Linked DNA regions of Homo sapiens. The protein of the gene in region 2 interacts with the protein of the main gene of each other region in a biochemical or structural test. Each region holds a gene or a part of one and is shown on either strand. Other genes may lie near its edges.

Region 1 (7,229 bases), on a different chromosome or scaffold from region 2:
GCTAATTTTGTATTTTTAGTAGAGATGAGGTTTCTCCATGTTGGTCAGGCTGGTCTCGAACTCCTGACCTCAAGTGATCCAACCTCCTTGGCCTCCCAAACTGCTGGGATTACAGACGTGAGCCACCGCGCCTGGCCAATAATGACTAGTGTTTTTAAAATGTGATTCAGTGGGCTTCACTTATTATTCTGAAAAAAATACAGCATGATTACTAGCATCATTAATTGTTTTAAAATATATTTGTTAAATGTTTATTATAATGAGAGCCCTGCTGAGATATGGAAGGAATAAAAAAGCATTATCCATTCCTTGTCACAACCCATAAGCTATGGAAATTGCAAGTATTAGTTTCTTTTCAGAAGTTTCTAAATGCAAATAAAATATGATTATAATTTCTTTGTTAATTTAATTATTTTTTGAGACAGGGTCTCACCCTGTTGCTCAGCCTGGAGTACAGTGGCATGATCATGGCTCATTGCAACCTCTACCTCTCAGGCTCGAATGATCTTCCTGCTTAAGCCTCCTGAGTAGCTGGGACTACAGGATAGTGCCACCATGCCCGGCTCATTTTTAATTTTTTTTTTTTTTTTTTTTTTTTTTTACAGAGACAGGGTCTCACTATGTTGCCAGGCTGTTTTCGAACTCCTGGGCTCAAGCAATCCTCCTATCTTGGCCTCCCAAACTGCTGGGATTACAAGTGTGAGTCACTGCGCCTGGCCTGAAGATTCTATTTCACCTATGGTACTTCCTCCTCTTTATGTCCTTTATTCTCTGTAATGTATTAAAGAATAAGAGTTTTTACATCATACTTTGTCTAGTAATTCTACTTTTAGGGACCTTGTTTTCTTCATCTGCAAAATGGAGATTGTAACCTCATAAGGAAGTTATTTAAATGAAGTGTTAGATTGTTAAAACTAAGTGGTAATGTACAATCAGTGCCTGAAACACAATCAGCAGTCAACAAATTCTATTTATATCTATAATTATTATTATATTAATGCCATTGCATTTTTCTCATTCAAGCTTGAAGACATTTCTTTTATCCTTCCCACTCACATAAAATCAATTATAAATTTCTATTGACTCTGTCTTGAAGATCTTCCTCAAAATGGTCCTCTCTTTTCCATTTCTACTGCTGCTTTCCTAATTTCATCTTTCCTTGCCAAATGATTTGGGTAAACAGCTAATTGTTGCCCAAAGTGTTGAGTAACCAGATAATTCTTCCCGAAACATGCTCTTCTGTTCCTATCTGTGAAAGAAAGAAACAACTTACCTCAGTGTATCCCTAATGTCCATCAAATAAAACACAAATGTTTCTGTTAAAAGTCTTTCCAGTTGGGCGCGGTGGCTCACTCCTTTAATCCCAGCACTTTGGGAGGCCAAGGCAGGTGGATCACGAGGTCAGGAGTTTGAGACCAGTCTGGCCAATACAGTGAAACCCCACCTCTACTAAAAAAAAAAAAAAAAAAAAAAAAAAAATTGCCAGGCCTGGTGGCGGGTGCCTGTAGTCCCAGCTACTTGGGAGGCTGAGGCAGGAGAATCACTTGAACCCAGAGGGTGGAGGTTGCAGTGAGCTGAGATCGCTCGACTGCACTCCAGCCTGAGTCACAGAGTGAGACTCTGTTTCAAAAAAAAAAGTCTTCCCAATCACACCTAATAACATTTCCATTGTGCCTGAAGAGATAGCCTGTACTTCCGTCAAGTTCATTAACCTAGCCCTCCAGATCCAGTTCATCCTTTAGATCCACCGCGAAGCCTTCTATTCACTCGAACTGGTTACTCCCTTCTCTCATCTCTTATAGGATGTCTAAGGGCTTGTTATCACTTCTATAGCATTTATTATGTATTGAAATATATCTGGGCAACACTCTAGAGTAATGGTTAAAAGCATAGCTATCGGGGTAAGACAGTTGCAATGATTAAATTAACAAAACACCTTGAATATAATACTTAATTATAGTATGGAGTCAATAAATATTACCTATTTTTAGTATCATTGTGTATACACATCTTATTTCCCTACTAAAATGTTCCTAGATGACAATGATCTTCTGGAATTGATGGTACCTTTTCCAGTACTTTGCCTAGAAAGATTTTATTAGGTTTGCAATTAGAATTAATTACTCACAAACTGATTTCTTATAGACTCTAGGTTGACTTCTTTTCATGCTTTAAAATGTGGTAACTTCGTCTCTGTAAGGGATATGCTAACTCTCAATCACTGTGATTGATATGTGATTTGAGTATATAGTTTTGTGCTCAACTTTTGATTAGTGTTAATTTTTAAAAAAACAGTTTAAAAATCAGGATATGTATGTGAATAAAACAATTGTTATTAAGTAATATAACATCATAATTACAATTAATACTCTGTATTGCATGCCCTCATACCAATAAGTGCCAAGTAGCTTGCTAAAAACTGCTTTGAAATGCTTGCATCAGTGCTCCTTATCTTGCCAAACTTGTTTTGCGTAATGATTGGTGAGAAGAATAACATTTTATTTGAGGATCTCGAAGCACCTGGCAAGGCTGCTTTCCATTTTGCAGATTGGTTACACTGCGCTTGCAGATTGGTTACACTGCGCTTTGCATTTCCTTTGCTATACTGCCATCCAGGAAGAGGGCTGGCTACACAATAGAATATTTTATATTACAAAATATTCTGGACATTTCCTAAGTAATTGGCCTGCTATTTTATCTTATATTCATTGTGACTGTGTACACAGTCAGATTTTTCCCTCTCACTTTGCCCAATGAAAAGATTGGAAGCAAATTTGTGTCTGTCTGGAGCTATGATACTGGACCTTAGTTATGACTTTTGTTGGCTTTTTTCTTGATCCCATTGTATTTATTTTTTATTTTTTCCTACCCATTTTCAATTGGAGTTGTCTTGTTGGAATATGTACCCTTTTAAGCACCTCAAGTTTCCTTTCAAACTGGACAGGCAATAGACACATAACTAATTTTTAACACTATTCACACATTTCTGTTAGACTGAAGCAGATTGTGCAGTGGAAATACTAGGCCTTTGGAGGGAGTCACACTTGGGTTTAAATTCCAGCTTTGACACTTAATAACTGTGGACCTTGGACAAATTATTTAACCTTTCTGAGTTCCCTCTCTGTAAAATGGAAATAATAATCCATAACTCACAAAGATGTCTTGGGGATTAAATAAAATAACTCATGCAAATTACTTGGTGCATAGTAGGCATTCAATAAATGTCAGTTCACTTCTCTTCCCAGTTAATAATGCTTATTAGACTATATTAAAAACTAGAACTAGACTGTGATAATGCATTTCTTTATTAGGTATTTAAGCCAAATAACTAATTTCCCCCGGGGGAAGAGAGAGAAATGTTGAATTAGTTTCATTTGGTGAACTTATTTATTAATCTTTCTTTTTCTTGAGCATTTTTCAGTTTCATAGTCCATAATTTAGTTTTCATGCAGCAAAAATGACACAGTTTGGTATTCTTTTCACCTTTACTGTGCTAGAATTGTTTTTTTAAATGTATCTATTATTACATCTGCCACTTATTAGAGATCTTTATTAATTATATTAACAGCTCGATTGTGTTTCATAACTACGTCGTGCTGACAAACTTGTGCTCTCAGCAGTTTCCCTGAGGTCTAAGCATTTAAAAGAATCAAGTTTTAAATGACAATGCCACAGCAAAAGAAAAGCAGGGGTGGGCGGGAAGACGCACACCGTCTGTGTTCTTTCGTGTTAATTTTATATGTTTGCATTTAAGTGGAGCCACATTTTCCTCAAGGACGCAACCTAAGTAAGGCGAGCAGGGAAAGTGGAAACTAAGTGAGCTGGAACTACAGTACCATTGCACCTTTAAGGACTGGAGACTTGCTATTAGCTCGGCCTCCTTCCCGGCCCACCTCTGAACTCTGATTGACAGGGCGCCGGGCGAGGAGGAGCTGAAGGAGGCTGGAGAGGAGGCGCCGTGAGGAAAGTAGGGGAGGAGGGGGCCGGTCCTTTATCTGGTGGCCAATCAGGGAAGCGGGGAGGAGCTCCAGGCGCCCTCCTCCCTCCTCCTCTCCCCAGCCTCCCGGCTTCCCCGCCCCCTCCCCTTCCCTTTGCCCCCTCCCCTCTCCTCCTTCTCGTCCTCCTCCTCCTTCTTCTCCTCCTCCTCCTCCTCCTCTCAGGCTGTGGTTTTTCTGTATATGTTTCTGGAGTCCTGAGCCTGAGCTAAACAAAAGCAGGAGGCTGACGGGGCTGCTGGAGTTTGCAGAGACACGGAGGAGGAGAGAGCCTGTGCTTTGCCTGCCGCCGCGGCTGGGGGAGATCTGGCTTTTGCAACAGCCCACCCCCTTTGAGATCACTCTGGCCCGGAGTGGGGGTGGGGGGCAGCGGGGGGTGGGGGGGGAAAGTTTGCATTGCAATCCCCCTGCCTTCCTCTCCTTTCTCCCGATCAATGCATATTTGCAAAAGGATTAAGCCACAGATTTAAGCGCCGGGAGCCCATTTCTGCCTTGCAAAGGAGACCGGACTGAAAAACCTAAAGCCAGCTCTGATTTCTTTTCGCCAAGTGGGAAGGTGGTTTATTTTTCTTGCTTTTTGGAGTCAACACCCTTCCCCACCAGCCCTTATCCCCACCCTCACCCCGCAACCCCTTCACGCCCCCTCCCCCTCCCCCTCCTCATCCTCCCACCATCCTCTAAAGAGGCAAAGGGATTTTTTTTTTCTTTTGGTCTTCTTTTTTCCCCCTTCCCTGTTTATCCTGAAAAGGATTTGAAGACAAGCTTGAAGGATAAAAAGCCTTGGTGCTTCCCAGGAGCCGAGCCGAGGAGCAGAAGAGGAAGAGCCGGGGGCTGCCGTAGCCTTTGGAGATGGACGAGCAGCCCAGGCTGATGCATTCCCATGCTGGGGTCGGGATGGCCGGACACCCCGGCCTGTCCCAGCACTTGCAGGATGGGGCCGGAGGGACCGAGGGGGAGGGCGGGAGGAAGCAGGACATTGGAGACATTTTACAGCAAATTATGACCATCACAGACCAGAGTTTGGATGAGGCGCAGGCCAGGTGAGATGGAGGCTTTTCTTTTCCTTTCTTGGGGTTTTTTGTTTTTCTTCCTCTTGCAGGGGGAAACAATGGGAACCGAATCACCACAGCGCTTTTTTTGAAAAATGTTATTTCTTTTCTCATTTTGACAAGCAACTACATGGCGGAGGAGTAAAATTTGAAGGAGCGTTGTTATCGAAAGTGTAATCGCCCATGCCGAGATGTGGCTGTGTACATATTTGTGTGTGTGTGTGTGAATATAGGGGTATTCATTTATATCCACACAAACACACAGGCATGCCGAAAATACTGCCAACTGATCCAAAAGCGGCCCTCGGCACTTTTTACTGCTTTAAAAAAGTATCAGAGAAAGCAGAATTGTCAAGTTTTGAACAGCATTCCATGCCTTCTTGTTGAGGGGACTCTGTAACATTACGAAATAAAATGTCCCAAGAACACTTTATTTGCAAATTTAGTTGACTCCTTACCTAATTCAGCGAGTTTGATTTTCTTTCTTGACTCTCCCGTCCAAAATTAATTTTTATCTTTTCTCCTTTCTTCCCCCCCTACCCAAAATACAAAACAACAAAAAAGCAGGGTATTTCTTTGTCAGTACTTGTCAGCTATCCAGAAAATATTTTGCATTCACTTAATTTTGTTTTTTTAAAAAGTTGATGAAAAGGTGATTTTGTTTTTAGGCATATTTGTTAGTTTTAAGAGACTCAGATTTTTAGTTTAACTTTATTGTCTCCTAATTTCAGCCGGTTTACTAACCTTCCGTGACACAGACAGCTATGTAGGGTCCTTTAAAAAGGGGTGGGGGGACAAAAATCAAGCATGCTCTTTTCCCCCATGCTTCTTTCAGGACCACTTAGAAATGAAAGCATTTATGAATTTTATATATTTCAGTACTATAGGACATGAAGGTCTTCATTAAGGAAACATAATAAACTGTGTAGCCTCTCAAGTTAATCCACTGCCAGGTATATGGTTCTCTACTTCAGGATTTTACAGTAAATTCTCTTTTAAAGTAAAACATAGACTAAGTGACAACCCGCTAACAGCTTGCCCAAGGCCGAACTCAAAAGGAAGAATTTTAAAAATCTAATGACCACATATGTCTGTACAATTACCCAGCTTTGTTATATCTCCGAAGTAGCGTTTTTCTCTTTGAAAACCCTGTAAACAAATATACGCAACTCCTATACTTCAGATGACTTGGTTATATGGAGAAGACATCATTATGTGTATTTCTGTCTACGTGAAATAAGAATCTGAGTTGAGAAAATGAGAGGAAGCAGTTAAAAACATAGATGTTATGAATTATACTCAATTTTAGCTGCAAGCACATGCAACATGTAAACTCAAAAGTACTAAGGTTTACGGGTGTTTGAAAACTTGGAAATGTTGAAAGACTCAAAGTATCCTAAGTTTTGTTTAAATAGGGGAAATTTTAAAAATTAATTGGTGCTCTCTTTGAATTTTATTATCTGAAGAAAAGCTAATAGGTATGGTAAGAGGAAGATTTCCCACTGGCAATTCTCTTTTGAATTGGAACATTTTTCTCTATTATATTGTTCTAGAAGAATACTCTCAGACATACCAATAAACTGGCTTAAAAATAAGTTTGTGAAGTGGAAGGGGCTAGTAAGAATAGATACTACTTTTTTGATGTTCAGTCTCTCTTCTTTTGTGAAACTGTGGACAAACAGGGCTTGGCGACTTCCCCCTTTCAATGGCCTAGATGCAGAGAGAGATCAGATACAATTTTGGGATGGGGAAATTTTCAGTTCTTCCTCTGTAGCTGGCTCCATTTGTGTGCTGTGGAAATACAATATTTTTATAAAGCTGTGTGAGAATTTTTGTTTGCATTTGGGCCTATATATAATAATAGAATTAATTAAAACTATTTTAAAAGACCCAGGAAAGGTCTTTAATACTTTAAAGTATTTTCCATCTTTTTTTTTTTCTACCCCACATGAGAACTTACTAAAATCAACGCTAAGCTTTCTTTTTGGATAAACAATGTAACTCCACTTAGTAGATAGTATGTCCTTTTTTCCTTTTTCTAGTCACACCTTTATAATGTGTATTTATTATTTACAAAAGTAAACCATTAATATTTTAGATATAATGTATGTGTTCATTTTGATAGTCCTGAATTTTGACTTTATTACTCCCCTGCTGTACAGTACATAGGGCATGTTTCTGATCT
Region 2 (7,024 bases):
AACTCTGTCTCAAAAAACAAAACAAAACAAAATGATATAACTTTTAGAAAAATCGCAAGAGAAAATCTTGAGGATCTAGAACTAGGCAAAGACACCAAAATGGAACTTTATGAAAATGTAGCACTAGCCTAGGGTGAGTGTGGATGTATCACTATTTGTGGATGTAGAAACAGGAGTAGATGAGGGTGAGTCACTTGTCCTGCCTGCCACAGAGCGAATCAGTGGAAGGGCTAGGCTTTGGCTCACAGCCCACACACCTAGCACTGGGATGCACCGAGGTCACCACCACGCGCCTTTGTCTTCCCTGCACACCAGATGCAGCCAAACACCAAAGCCCAGGTCAGTGGCACCGGAACAACACATCAGTTTAGAGGATTTCTGATGTTATTCCACTTTGGTTATTGGCAGTAGAGATGGTTCTATCTAATGACTAAGAACTGGTATGTAGGATCATGATAACTTACAATAATGCCACCTTTTTCTCTGAAAGTCTTCATTTTCTCTGCTCTAGATGGTAAAAGCAATCCAGGTTTTGCGCATTCATCTTCTTGAGCTGGAAAAGGTTAACGAACTCTGCAAAGATTTCTGCAGTCGATACATTGCTTGTCTGAAAACAAAAATGAACAGTGAAACTCTGTTGAGTGGAGAGCCTGGAAGCCCGTACTCACCAGTGCAGTCCCAGGTACTTACATTTGGGGGTCTCGCTTTCCCTCTCTGCCACTGTGAACATCTGCATTGAGTCATGAGACCACCAGCTCTTTCAGAATTCACTGGGTCATCTTTATGACTTTCTACAAGAAGGACCCTCTAGGTCTCTGACCCCAGCCTGGTTTGGGAATGAACTCCCTCAGATTATGAAGTGAGTCCTCAATCTGCATACTGGGCCCCCGGTCCCATGTTTATGGAAGGCACAATTCCATTCATTTCTTTCTTTTATTTCTTCTGAAAATATTTTACTTATTCTTTTGAAAAATTGTGTAAAATACACATAATATAAAATTTACCATCTTAGCTATTTTAAAATTTACAGTTCAATGGTGTTAAGTTTATTCACATTGTTGGGCAACCATCAACACCATCCATCTCCAGAACTTTCTCATCTTCTCAAACTCAAACTCTGACCCCATTAAACACTCATTCCGGATTCCCCCTCCCCTAGCCCCTGGAACCCACCGTTCTACTGTCTGTCTCTGTGAATTCGATGACTCCAGGTCTCTCATGTTAAGCGGAATCGTACAGTGTTTGTCCTTCTGGATCCTTTGCTTGTTTCATTGTGCAGAATGCCTGGAGGGTTCATCCATGCGGAAGCACTATTGTGTTTTAGCCATTCTGATGATATGTAGTGATATTAATATTTCTTTGTGGTTTTAATTTTCATTTCCCTGATGGCTAATAATGTTGAACATTATTATACCCTCTGTGTATTTTCTTTGATAAAATGTCTGCTGCTTATGTCTTTTGCCTTTTTTTTTTTTTTTTTTTTGAGACAGAGTCTCGCTCCATCACCCAGGCTGGAGTGCAGTGGCGCGATCTCGGCTTACTGCAAACTCCGCCTCCTGGGTTCATGCCATTCTCCTGCCTCACCCTCCTGAGTAGCTGGGACTACAGGTGCCTGCCACCACACCCGGCTAATTTTTTGTATTTTTAGTAGAGACGGGGTTTCACCGTATTAGCCAGGATGGTCTCGATCTCCTGACCTCGTGATCCGCCCGCCTTGGCCTCCCAAAGTGCTGGGATTACAAGCATGAGCTACCACGCCTGGCCGTCTTTTGCGCATTTTTTAGTTGGATTTTTTTTTAACTTCTGAGTGTTGAGAGTTCTTTGCTTATTGTAGATACTAGTTCTCTGTTGGATATGTGGTTTGCAAGTGTTTTCTCCAAGTCTATAGTAGCTAAGTATTTTTCTCATCCTCTTAACAGGTCTTTTTCAGAGCCAGCCTTTTTAATTTTAATAAAGTTCAATTTATTAGGTTTTCCTTTTATGGATCATTCTTTTGGTGTCAAGTCTAAGAACTCTTTGCCTAACCCTAGGTCCCAAAGACTTCGTCTTAAGTTTTTTCCTAAAAGTTTTTAAATAGAGACAAGGTCTCACTATGTTGCCCAGGCTTGTCCCAAACTCCTGGGCTCAAGTGTGAACCACCATGCCTGGCCTCAAAAGTTTTATAGTTGTCCATTTTGCATTTAAATCCGTGATCCATTTTGAGTGGATTTCTCTATAGAATAACTCTCAAAGCTGGGCACATTGTTTCCTCCCACCCTGTGATTCCTTTTCAAAATTGTTTAGCTGTTCTGGTTCCTTTGCCTGTCCACATAAATTTTAGAATGCTCTTGTCTAGAGCTACAAAAACATCTTGCTTAGATTTTGATAGGAATTGTATTATACCTGTATATCAATCTGGGGAGAATTGACATCTTTACTGCATTAAGTCTTCCAGTCCACAGGTATGGCATGTCTCTCCATTGATTGACAACTCTGATTTCATTCATCAGTGCTTTGTAGTTTTTGACACATAAGTTGTGTACATGCGTTTTTAGAATTATACCCAAGCATTTCCTTTCCTGGCCTGTGCCATCTCGAATAAGAGTGGCAAGAGCAGACATCCTTGCCTTGTCACCGCCTTAGGGGACACCTTTCAGTCGCTCACTGTCGATGATGTTGGTTGCAGGTTTCTTTCTAGATGCTCTTTATCAAGTTAAGGAGGTTATCCTATATTGCTTTTTTTCTGAGAGATTTTATTTTGTTCAATTTTGTTAAATGCTTTTCCAGCATTGATTGATATGATTATGTGATTTTTCTTCTTTAGCCTGTTAATAATGGACATTACATGGATTGGTTTTTTGAATATTGAACAAGCCTTCTATTCCTGGAATAAACTCCACTTGGCCATGGCACATAATTCTTTTCATATGTATTCTTGAATTCTATTGGCTAATATTTTGTTCAGCATTTTTGTCTATATTTGTAAGGGATATTGGTGTATAGTTTTGTTTTTCATACTGTCTTTGGTTTTGGTATCAAAATACACAAACTTACATAAAATGGATTGGGAAGTATTCCCTCCTCTTATTTTTTTCTGGAGATTATGTAGACTTGGTGTTATTTCTTAAATGTTTGAGAAATAGAATTGATCTATTTCACCTAAGATGTTAAATTTAGGAGTTTAGAGTTGGTCTAGTATTCTCTTCATAGCCTTTTGGTGTTAGCAGGGTCTATAGTGATCTCTTCCTGTTTTATTTCTGATATTGATCTTTTGTGTCTCTATTTTTTTTTTAGTCAGTCTTTCTAGAGGTTTATGTAATTTTCAAAGAACAGTATTTTGTTTTATTGATTTTTTTGGTTGTTTTTCTGTTTTCAGTTTCATTGATTTCACCTTGATCTTTATTATTTCCTTTCTTCTGCTTTCGGTTCATGATGTTCCTCTTTTTCTAAGATCTTAAGGTGGAAGCTGGGATGATTGATTTGACTAGCTTAACTTTTATTACAGCCTAATTAATGTGGCAGGCTTTAAGCGTAGCCACTAAGCTTACACATTCCGCTCGATGATGGCCCACAGAATCACCGCCTTGGGGTGGCGTCCCCTTATGCTATGTAACTGCTCACATGTCAGGGCACATGAGTGTGCCAGGCCCGGCACTGGAGGCTCCTCTCCCCTGCCAGCTGCCCACCCAGGCGTCACAGTCAGTGGATAAAGTGGCCCATGTGGATCTAACCCCAGATGCATAGAGTCCTCCATGGGGCATGTAGAAACATTTGCATGGGGCTCGCTGTAGGCCGGGCACAGTTCCAAGCACTGTACAAGCAAGAACACTGGGGAAAGCCAAGATCACACTTAGTCCGTGCCGGGGTCAAGAGTCAAGGTGGGTGCCAGGGGCTGACTCCCCAGCACAGCTTGGAATACCTCAGCCCTGGTCACTTCTAGTGCCTCCCAGGCCTGTGCTATAATCTCTTGAATGCTCTTATCGGTCAGGGAGAGCTTGGTTCATGGAAAACTCAAGAGTCCACCAAGCCAAGTCTAATGAAAAAGATGTGTGATCAGAAAGCAGGGTCTTCCTCGATATACTCCTGGGCTGTAAGGCACGTGGAATATGGCAGTGAGATGAAGATAATCTTTTGGAAGCCACAGTGCAGGCTGACGTTGCAGGCTGGCTTGTTGTGTTTAATACACAGTTGAACATCTCTTGCTTTCCGTGTGTGCTGCGTGCATTCTGAAGCCGCGTCATCTGAGGATGTTCTTTCCCTCAAGCTTCTCTTTCCTTTTTTAATGGTGTCATTATGCTACTTATGTTAAAGTTTTAAACATGGGTTTTCCGTTTTCTAGTAATTCCTTCAACATGTGTGTTCTGACTTGCAGCAGATTCAAAGTGCCATCACAGGCACCATCAGCCCTCAGGGAATTGTGGTGCCGGCGTCCGCGCTGCAGCAGGGAAACGTAGCCATGGCGACGGTGGCAGGTACGATGACAGAAAAATGGACACACTCTCCATGAGTTTTTGCAGAAAATGGTCCTGTGTGTTAGAATGACAGTATAAATATAATTTCAAGTTCATGCCATTTTCTAATATAGCAATGTTAGAAGCTAGAGGTCTCTGAATGCCTCTTTCTTGTTAATACTCAATAACAAATATTTTATGCAGATTGTGTTTCTTTGTTTCTCTACCAAAAATATATTGGAAAGAAAAAAGGTTTTATGTAGGAATTGAAAATATACACCAAAAACCAGTTGTCATTTTCAAATAACATAGCTTTTTGTTGTGCTTTTAATAGCACCGTGAAAATCTTAAGTTTTATCATTAATTGATGACAAATAAAAATGCAGTCTTAGCATTGGTATTACTTGTAGAACAAAACCGTTACAGGAAAGGGACAGATTCCAGAGTTCCCTGATGCGTAGAGAACATTGAAAACACAAAGCATCATGGAAATGGGACACGGCAAAGAGGGAGGGGTAGAAATTTACACCAAAGACCTCACATAATAGCACAAAGGGAAACCTCAGTGGGAAAAAAAAAAGCACCATTGATCCAAAAATATAACTAGAATTAAAATAGTTATTATTTAGTACCCTTGGCCAAATCCTTAACATGTGCTAATTTTAGGAAATAGTAGAAAGCAGAGGCTAGCAAAAGGAAGGGAGCCCTCACACCCCAGGTCAGTTGGTGGTGTGTGAGCCGGGCTGTGTGGGCTGCCAGGCACATAGCGCCCACCCACCTGCCCACCCACTGCTGCAGGTGCCCGAGTAGCCCACCCAGGGAGTTTGTTTTGATACTTTATAGTGACAAGTCAACTGGCAAAGGATTGTTGATCTTTTGAAATGATTAAAAAGCTCATCAAACCAGGGATTTTATTCCTTTTGTAAGTATATCAAGAAGAGGGCTGGTCGCAGTGCCTCACATCTGTAATTCCAGCACTTTGGGAGGCCAAGGCAGGAGGATCAGTTGAAGCCAGGAGTTAGAGACCAGCCTGGGCAACAAAGCAATGTCCCTGTCTCTACAAAAAAAAAAAAAAAAAAAAAAAGAAGAATGGTTTAAATCATTGAGACTTAAAAGCAGCCTCATATTTTTATTCTCCCTTTCGAGGTGGCACAGTGTATCAGCCTGTCACGGTCGTCACTCCCCAAGGCCAAGTGGTCACACAGACATTGTCGCCTGGGACAATTAGGATCCAGAACTCCCAGGTGCGTGCGCCATTTTATGGAAGGCTTTGGGGGCGAGTGCTGCCCACATAGGGGCACAGGTAGAACAAGCATGAGCCCTTCCCTCTGCCTGAAGAGCTTTGTCTTGTGTAGCAATTTCTGGTTTCTCTGAATGTCAGTGTTTTGTTTCTTTGTACTCTTATCTCTCGCATTGTAGAGAATTTGCAAAGTTCAGAAAATTCTGAAAGAACAGGAAAAAAGTCACTCATAACCACCCCCTGCCACCCACACACACACACACACACACACACACACACACACACACACACACACACAGAGTTATCCAGTGCTAACGTTGGATCATGTGCACGTGCACCAGGGGCAGAGGTCTTGTAGGCACACACTCCCCAGGGTCCCCACAAAGGGCACGGCAGAACTGCCAGGCAAGCTTTTCAGACCAGTGAGCCTGGCCCACACCTCCATCATGACAATGTCATTGGGCCAGGGCTTTCAGGCCTCTCTGTCACCCAGGCTGGAGTGCAGTGGCGCTATCTCTGCGGCTGCTGAGCCTTGCCCGTCTTTGGTGTGTGTTATCAGTTCTTACTTTAAGAACATTGATTCTGGGCCGGGCACGGTGACGTCTGTAATCCCAGTACTTTGGGAGGCCAAGGTGGACAGATCACGAGGTCAGGAGTTCAAGACTAGCCTGGCCAGTATGGTGAAACCCTGTCCTTAAAAATACAAAAATTAGCTGGGTGCAGTGGTGCACGCCTGTAATCCCAGCTACTCGGGAGGCTGAGGCAGGAGAATCGCTTGAACCCGGGAAGCAGAGGTTGCAGTGAGCTGAGATCGTGCCACTGCACTCCAGCCTGAGCGACAGAGTGAGACTCCATCTCAAAAAAAAAAAAAAAACATTGATTCTGGCCGGGTGCAGTGGCTCACACCTGTGATCCCAGCACTTTGGGAGGCCGAGATGGGTGGATCTCTTGAGGTTAGGAGTTTGAGGCGAGCCTGTCCAACATAGTGGAACCCCGTCTCTACTAAAGATGCAAAAATTAGCTGGATGTCGGGTGCATGTCTATAATCCCAGCTGCTCGGGAGGCTGAGGCAGGAGAATTGCTTGACCTGGGAGGTGGAGGTTGCAGTGAGCCGAGATCGTGCCACAGCACTCCAGCCTGGGCAACAAGAGCAAAACTCCATCTCAAATAAAATAAAATAAACAAAAAAAAAACACACATTTTTTTGAGACTTTGCAAACCTAAAAATGAGTTTATTTTAATCTCATATTTGATATGCAGTCTGTTTACTTGTAGAATTCTGGGTTGAAAATCCTTTCTACCCAACATTGAGAAAGCATTACTTTTGTTTTTCTGAGACGAAGTCTCACTCTGT

The links.
Region 1: the proteins of PKNOX1 (region 2) and PBX1 form a complex in vitro, tested with the Homo sapiens proteins (2 studies listed by BioGRID).

Annotation. Positions count from the first base shown.
Region 1 is NC_000001.11:164,554,979-164,562,207, forward strand, and holds the start of PBX1 (pre-B-cell leukemia transcription factor 1), read left to right. Parts: upstream 1-4,205; 5' UTR 4,206-4,844; coding exon 4,845-5,035; intron 5,036-7,229. UniProt on the Homo sapiens protein: Transcription factor which binds the DNA sequence 5'-TGATTGAT-3' as part of a heterodimer with HOX proteins such as HOXA1, HOXA5, HOXB7 and HOXB8. Binds to the DNA sequence 5'-TGATTGAC-3' in complex with a nuclear factor which is not a class I HOX protein.
Region 2 is NC_000021.9:43,012,557-43,019,580, forward strand, and holds part of PKNOX1 (homeobox protein PKNOX1), read left to right. Parts: intron 1-511; coding exon 512-682; intron 683-4,351; coding exon 4,352-4,451; intron 4,452-5,576; coding exon 5,577-5,674; intron 5,675-7,024. UniProt on the Homo sapiens protein: Activates transcription in the presence of PBX1A and HOXA1.